Linked DNA regions of Homo sapiens: region 1 is reported to be linked to region 2. The links are microRNA targets in miRTarBase. Many come from high-throughput screens and were not tested one by one. Region 2 holds a microRNA gene; the other region holds the end of a gene's coding sequence.
What was found. Region 2 holds the annotated microRNA hsa-miR-7-1-3p (CAACAAAUCACAGUCUGCCAUA, at 2,538-2,559, opposite strand). A microRNA usually pairs through its seed, bases 2 to 8, with sites in the 3' UTR of a target mRNA and lowers its output. Matches are read on the target gene's strand: a 7mer-m8 pairs with bases 2 to 8, a 7mer-A1 pairs with bases 2 to 7 and ends in A, and an 8mer does both.

Region 1 (3,411 bases), not on the chromosome of region 2:
CGTGCCTGACCCCAGTACCCACTCAGAGGTGGGGCTGGGCCCCAGACAGTTCCCCTGGCTCAGCCAGGACTAGGTGGGGAACCCAGCAGGTCTAAATCTGCAACTGAGCAGGGCTGGGCACTCGTGGCTCACAGTAACTGGCTGTGTTTTTTGGAAAGCACCATTCTGAGGACAGTGGATGGATAAGTTCTGACAGAGGGGAGAATGCACGCTGTAGTGGGGTGTTGCAGGGGCCTGAGTGCAGGGCCACAGCCATCCCTGCCCTGCTCTGGCCAACCTGCACCTCTCCTTAACTCTGAGTCCACTGGAAGCTGTGAGTAAGCGGCTGGCCATCCTGGAGAACACAGTTGTCTAAGGCTGCCTGTCACCACTGTGGCCTCTCCAAGCGTCCTGCACGTGTCCGCCGTAGCTTTACCATTTTAGTGAGGGAAGCCAGCCCGGGGGTGGGAGGGGGTGTGTCTGGGTGTGCCTATTGAGAGCGTGTAATGGCGTTTGGGAGCTCGTGTGTGTATGTGTGCGTGTGTGTATGTGTGCATGTGTGTGTGTGTGTGTGTGTGTGCACGTGCGCCTGAGGGTGGGCATGAGTCTTGCCAGAATGTGAGTGTGAGAGTGATAATGCAGGGGTGAGTGTGAGAGGGACTGCGTTTGCATTTTTATAATCAAAAGCTTAATATATTCCCATCTTTTTTAGTTAACCCTTTCTTGACTCTGAGTGCTGTGAATTTCTTTACTGATTTCTCTATTCTCCGGTGAGAAACAATTAAATGTGATTTAACGTAAGCAGTGAATGGGGCTAGAGGCAGTGTGGTTATTTGGGGACCAGGGAAAAGGATGGATGAAGATGTGGTGGGAGGGGATGGTTGGAAGGATGGTAACAGTGGTGGTGACAGTGATGACAGTGACCACACCAAAACCAGCTGGTGTTTGTCCTGCCTTTTCAGTTACATATTCATTTAGTTGACCTCATTTCACTTCCAGTAACCTTACCCAGAAAAGACTCAAATTATCCCCATTACAAATGGGAAAGCTGAGAGTCTAAATGATGAAATGACTTGCTCAGCAGTGGGTCGCTGAGAGACAGGACTTGAATCTAGGACTGAAGAACATCAAAAGAAAAAGGCTTCAGAGAAAAAGGGCAATGACACCAGATAGGACTCATTTGTTCATTCATTCATTCGTTCACTCATTCGTTCAGGTATCATGTACTTACAGGGCAATGGCGGTGGGGGGGGATGGTGCTGTATGAGACAGACGTAGTTCCTGCCCTAAGAGACATACAGTTGAGCAGGGTGCTCATGTCACCCCCACCAGCCAGAGGGACCAGCCAGAGGAAAAGAGAGTGGGTTTAGGTCGTACCAGGGGTTTGTGCCTCCTCTTGATACCTGGGAGCCCACGGGGTGAGTGTGTGTGTGAGATGATGGGAAGGGCTCCAGCCTGGGCCTGGGCTGCCCTAGGTGCCTCTCCCCTCCCGCCCCCAACATGCCCTGTTGGAGTTCTGTTTGTTTCCTGTGCACAGGCGGCATCACCCCCAACCCAAAGTCCCCAACGCAGATGGCAGCAGCCCCACCTCAGAGACTGCACAAGAGAAAGACTCCTGGCCCCATGTTCCCTTCCTCCAGCCCTATGTGGGGTCTGCAGGTCACACCCTGAGATCTCGGCCACCTCCCCCAGGCCCCTGTTGGACCAGTGCTGCTCCGGAATCTCCATCTCTGTCCTCTCAGAGGGGGAGCTTTGGTGATTTTCTGAACCTATTCTTGTTTAATGGAGCATTTTTAGTGTTACTACTAGATTCACACTTGAGAGCATGTCTAAAAGGCTTTTACAAGAAGCTCAGACCACACCGAAAGATCTTCCTCGGAGGCAGTTCAAAGAGGCAGAATAACAACACGAACGGTACCCAAGAGCTACATCAGTACAACAGCACAAATACACAAGCGCGACTTAACTGGGGCACAGCCACCCTCGCCCCCATGACCTGACTCCACCTCCTACACAGTTCACCAAACCCTTTCTCTCTGTCCGTCCCTGGGGCAGGAGTTTTTCTGCTGTCCAAGGAGGCTCCTTGACACAGCCACCTGAGAAGTTATGACTCTGCTCATTCTTCCTTTCTTCTGAGATTATCCACTCCCCTCTCCTCCCCACACAGGTGGGGAGGGGGAGAGGCAGCCATGTTGATATGGACTGAGAAGGCTCAGCAGTGTGTCCCCAAGGAGGAGGAGAGGGTCATTAGCGGACGCCATGGCCTGGGAGCTGGCGGGCAGAAGCAACAGATGTCCCTGATGAGTGGAGTCAGAGATGGGGTGGAAGCCCTGCCTGGGAATAGGACCTCGTTCTTCCCTGCCCGGTGGGTGGAGTAGTGGCAGGACCTTGTCACCAGGCTCTGATGAAGGCAGGGACCAGCTTCTTGGGATCTTTCAATCCCAAACTCTTGCCCTTCACTCATCGCAGTTCTCCCCACGGCTACTCCAGGTCCTCTTGAAATCCGTCCTCTCCATGGACTTCCCACATCCCTCTCTGCTCTAGGTTTGATTAACAGAAGGTTGTAAATGAAAACCAGCATCTCCCGAGGGCAGCCATGGTCTACTGACAGATGGCAAGTTACTTTGTAACCTGTAATTTTGTTTTTTTGAATTTTGTATAAATAAACAGGACTAAACTAATTAGGATTGTTCTTTTCTTTCTTTCCTCAGGCCTTGGGCTATAATGGGAGTCTCTTGGCCCCGTAGTGCATTGGTTACCAGGTTTCAATAAAGGGTTTGTCTTTGCAATTACAGTTCATTAATGGATTTACAAGGGAGAGAAGATGGCACAGTCCGCTAAGGGGATTGTTTTGCATTTCTCCTCTTTTAATTACATGGTTTTCTCCTGGACCAGTGCTCTTTGAAAAAAGGGGGCGGGGGTGGAGAGTCCCAATGCCCCATCTGTTCCAGATGTGAATGCAATTAATCCAGGAGAAGACAGGAGCTGCTCAGGGACTTCCTGATACCTGAGGCTGGGCCTGCATCCTCTTCAGAGCCGCCTGTGAGGCTGGGGGTTGGGGGGCCCTGCTACTCAACCCTGGTTGGCATCAAGGTATGTTGACAAGGGGAGGGGACCACTCTGCTTATGGGGGCGTCGCAGCCTTGGAGTATTTGGGGTCAGAATCAAGTTTGGGTCACCTATTGAGTTACCATTTTTGGGTGATCCCTATGTGCCGGGTGATATATACACAATTTCCAATTCACACTTCTCAGTGATCCTTTTAATAAACTTATTTCACAGACAGGGACACCAAGGCTGCCAGATGTAAAGTGTCACGTGGACAGGAAGTGGCTGGGCTGAGATTTAAATCCTGAAATCTCTGCCTCCCAAATCAGGGCTCTTTCCAGAACATGGCCTCTCTGAAGTTCAGGCTCACTATGGTGAAAGGGG
Region 2 (3,355 bases):
GGAAGCCAGTGTTCTCTCCAGGGATGCTTTCCTTCAGTAGGATTAACAATTTGACTAAAGTGTCCTTGTCATTTTTCTTTAGGGGTAAGGGCTCATTTCACCCTGAGCAACCCCAACTCAACCACACTGGGGAAACCATACCACAGGTAGCATTCACTAGTTTTAAGTAATATTTTGACATTTACTTCATGTTCTTCATTAATCAAAAGATCACTCTACGTCCCTCCCCAAACTAAATGTCACTCAACTCTACTTCCCTTAAAAGACATTATTCTGTTCATACTATTAATACTTACATGAATTCTAGAACTGCCCAACTGTTACTTTTATTATACACAAGCCTCTGACCTAAATTCAATAATTACATTCATGACTCCTTTCCTATATAGTTGTTCATCTGTTTTGAGGCAGGAAGATTGCTTGTGCCCAGAAGATGGAGGTTGCAGTGAGCCAAGATTATGCCACTGCACTCCAGCCTGGGAAAAACAGCAAGACACTGTCTCAAAAAACAAAACAAAACAAAACAAAAACAGTTTTCAAGCTTTCTGGACAGCTGGAGGTTAATAAGTAGTACTTCAGAAATATGAGCCGGGAACCATACTCTGCAGTTATTTTACATTATCTCCGATATTCTCAAACATCAAACTAAAGCTATTTTAGAGAAAGGAACCAAGTAACTCACTCAAAATTTCTCATAGGTAATGAGGAAAGCTCTGGCTGACTATAAGAAAAAAAAAATTGGATGACTAGGCTCTCATTTTGCTAAATTACCACGTTAATTATGAGCCCAACTACCACCCCTGCCAGCTTTCACTTATAAATGCTAGAAAAACACTTCACACAAAAAAATACATAAGATTACTATATTTCCTTTTAAGAGGAACGTTTCAACAAATTTTACAGGTGTCAATCAACCCTTGTTCAAATCGGGCACACATCAAATCTAGCATCATGGGTGTTTTATTTATTTGGAAGTGAATTTTAACTATCAATACAAATGCCAAGATACTACACAAAACATCCACAGGAACTTTTTTCATCTTTTTTTTTTTTGAATTGTACACAAACATTTCCTACATAATCCAACATACAACAGAGAAATGGTACATCTTTTTCTTTCAATTTGCATACAATGGAAAAACAAGTATATATATATTTTACAAAGTTTAACTAATAAGACACTAGAGCAAATTGACAGTTTAAGTCTATAGGTGAGAAATTATCTAATAAAAATAATCAATTTTTTCAGCATTAGTCACTTCCATAACCAAGTGTTATTCTGATTAATAAAACTTGCTGCCAATCAGAATTCTGGTATATACTCATACCATTACTCAACTTGTAGTACTGCTCCCCACCTTAGTTCTTCACAACTAACATAGAAAATTGTTGAAAAGTAGGGGCAAGCATTTGCAAAAACAAACAAAAAATCCCCAGCTTATTATAAGCATGAATATGTATGATGGAATTTCTTCCCAGCAATAGACTTCCAAACCATCAAGAAATCACCAGAACTAAGTTTGCCAAGTTATTTTGCCTATGTCCAACAAGAGATGCACTTATATGTCCAACAGAGGAGCTGAAAATTAAACTTAGTGTTTAGTTTGGGGGTGGGTTGGGAAATTCAGCCACCATTTTAAAATGACTGTCTTAAAAAAAAAATGACCACCAAAAATAGGTTCACTAAATTTATTTTAAAAATCATAAAACGTTTCTTACAAAAGAGCATTACATTCTGCACACTGCTCTGAACAGATGCCAGGGACATGTGGACTATTGTTACTTTTCCTCCCTGTCCCACCCCCCAAATGTTACAGTGACCACAAAGCAAGGTGTTCACAATAATTACATGGGGGGAATTTTTTAAACCACCAACAATAACGAAAAATAAAATCCACTCACTCTGCTGCTGTTTCAAAATTTCAATGTTAGTTTTTGCACGCCCTTCCCCCCCCCAACCCTGTTTGTAAGGAACTAAAACATTACATCTGGTGAACAGCAAAGATTTCACTACACCTCAAATGCAGAACACCTATGAAGCAGAGGAATGTTGGCTTTTTAAACAGAAGCAGATAAAAAAAAAAAGATGCAGGACTCCTTCAGTTCTTCACTAGTCTTAGAAAAACTTTCCAGAATACTGCTTCACACTATAAAAAAGAAAAAATATCTTGCATTAGAATCCTTCAACATCTGCATACTGCTTCACACTATAAAAGAAAAGAAAAAAAAGTGCGAATTAGAATTTTTGCTCGTAACATCTTAATCAACATCAAGACAATTTCAATGCTAAATTAAAATGATAAACACGTCCATTACAATTAGAAGAGTTCAAAAACCATTAGCAATTACAAATTAAAGCAATGTTAAGTGTCAAGAAAAATGATGAGTAGTAAATCGGACATTAGTAGAACAGAATTAAGAAAACGGAATTGAAAGTTGTTAATATTTGGTAGAAAAGACAAAGAATGCTAGTAAGGTGTGAAATGCTGCATTTTACAGCACCAATCATTTGTCCTGTAGAGGCATGGCCTGTGCCATATGGCAGACTGTGATTTGTTGTCGATTTAGTTATCTAAAAACAACAAAATCACTAGTCTTCCACACAGAACTAGGCCAACATCCAATGAATCTTCTATATTTTCTACAGGCTCTGTACAATTTTTAACAAGTGGTTTTGGCAGCAGTTTTCACCAGAGAAATGAGAAGTTTGCTTGGTTAAGGCTTCTTCCAGCAAGATTAGTATTGAATGTCTTCATTTTTAGTAAGAAAGCAGAAGAAAAATTAAGGCAAACTATTAGAATGTTTAGAAGTTAGGTCCCCAAAAGGTTGAGACACCATGGCTTCTAAAAGAAAAAAATCAATTGAGAAGAAAAGCTTTTTAAAGGTTTTAGTATGTATAAGCTAACACAAAGCTAAACTTAAACTGACCTGTTCTGCAGCAAATACTGTGCATTCTGTATCTGGTCCTGTGTTCCTGTAATGGTAATGATCCGATCTTCGGATCCTTCTAAAGGCTCATCAATTTTGATCGAAGCTCCCGACTCATGACGGATTTGTTTAATCCGCTGACCACCTTTGCCAATAATAGATCCAGCCAACTGAAAAGATTTTTTAAAAGTATGTGTTTACGATATACTTTTAACATTTACTACCTGTATTTTCAAGGAGCATGAAGTTATTAATTTTATTCATTCAGAATCTTAACTGATGATCTAACGCTCCCTAAACCTGTCAAGGTTTGAGTTATAATGTATTTATGTCACACTTACTAATGTTTCCCTTAGTTAGTTAAGGGCTCAAAACCTACTTAACTACTTTTATTAATAGCACTGATCACTTGACAAGACTCAAACAG

Region 1: the mRNA of MATN1 is a reported target of hsa-miR-7-1-3p. Seed matches in the 3' UTR shown: 7mer-m8 at 1,158-1,164.

What each region holds. Positions count from the first base shown.
Region 1 is chr1:30,710,526-30,713,936 of GRCh38, reverse strand. MATN1 (matrilin 1) reads left to right here. Exons shown (of 8, transcript NM_002379.3): 8 at 306-2,660. The coding sequence ends at 355. Among named protein-coding and RNA genes, the nearest start is that of MATN1-AS1, 6.5 kb to the left of the region's middle.
Region 2 is chr9:83,967,234-83,970,588 of GRCh38, forward strand. It overlaps MIR7-1 (microRNA 7-1), which reads right to left and starts at 2,624; the gene lies at 2,515-2,624. It overlaps HNRNPK (heterogeneous nuclear ribonucleoprotein K), which reads right to left. Exons shown (of 17, transcript NM_031263.4): 16 at 2,929-3,098; 17 at 850-2,207. The coding sequence ends at 2,174.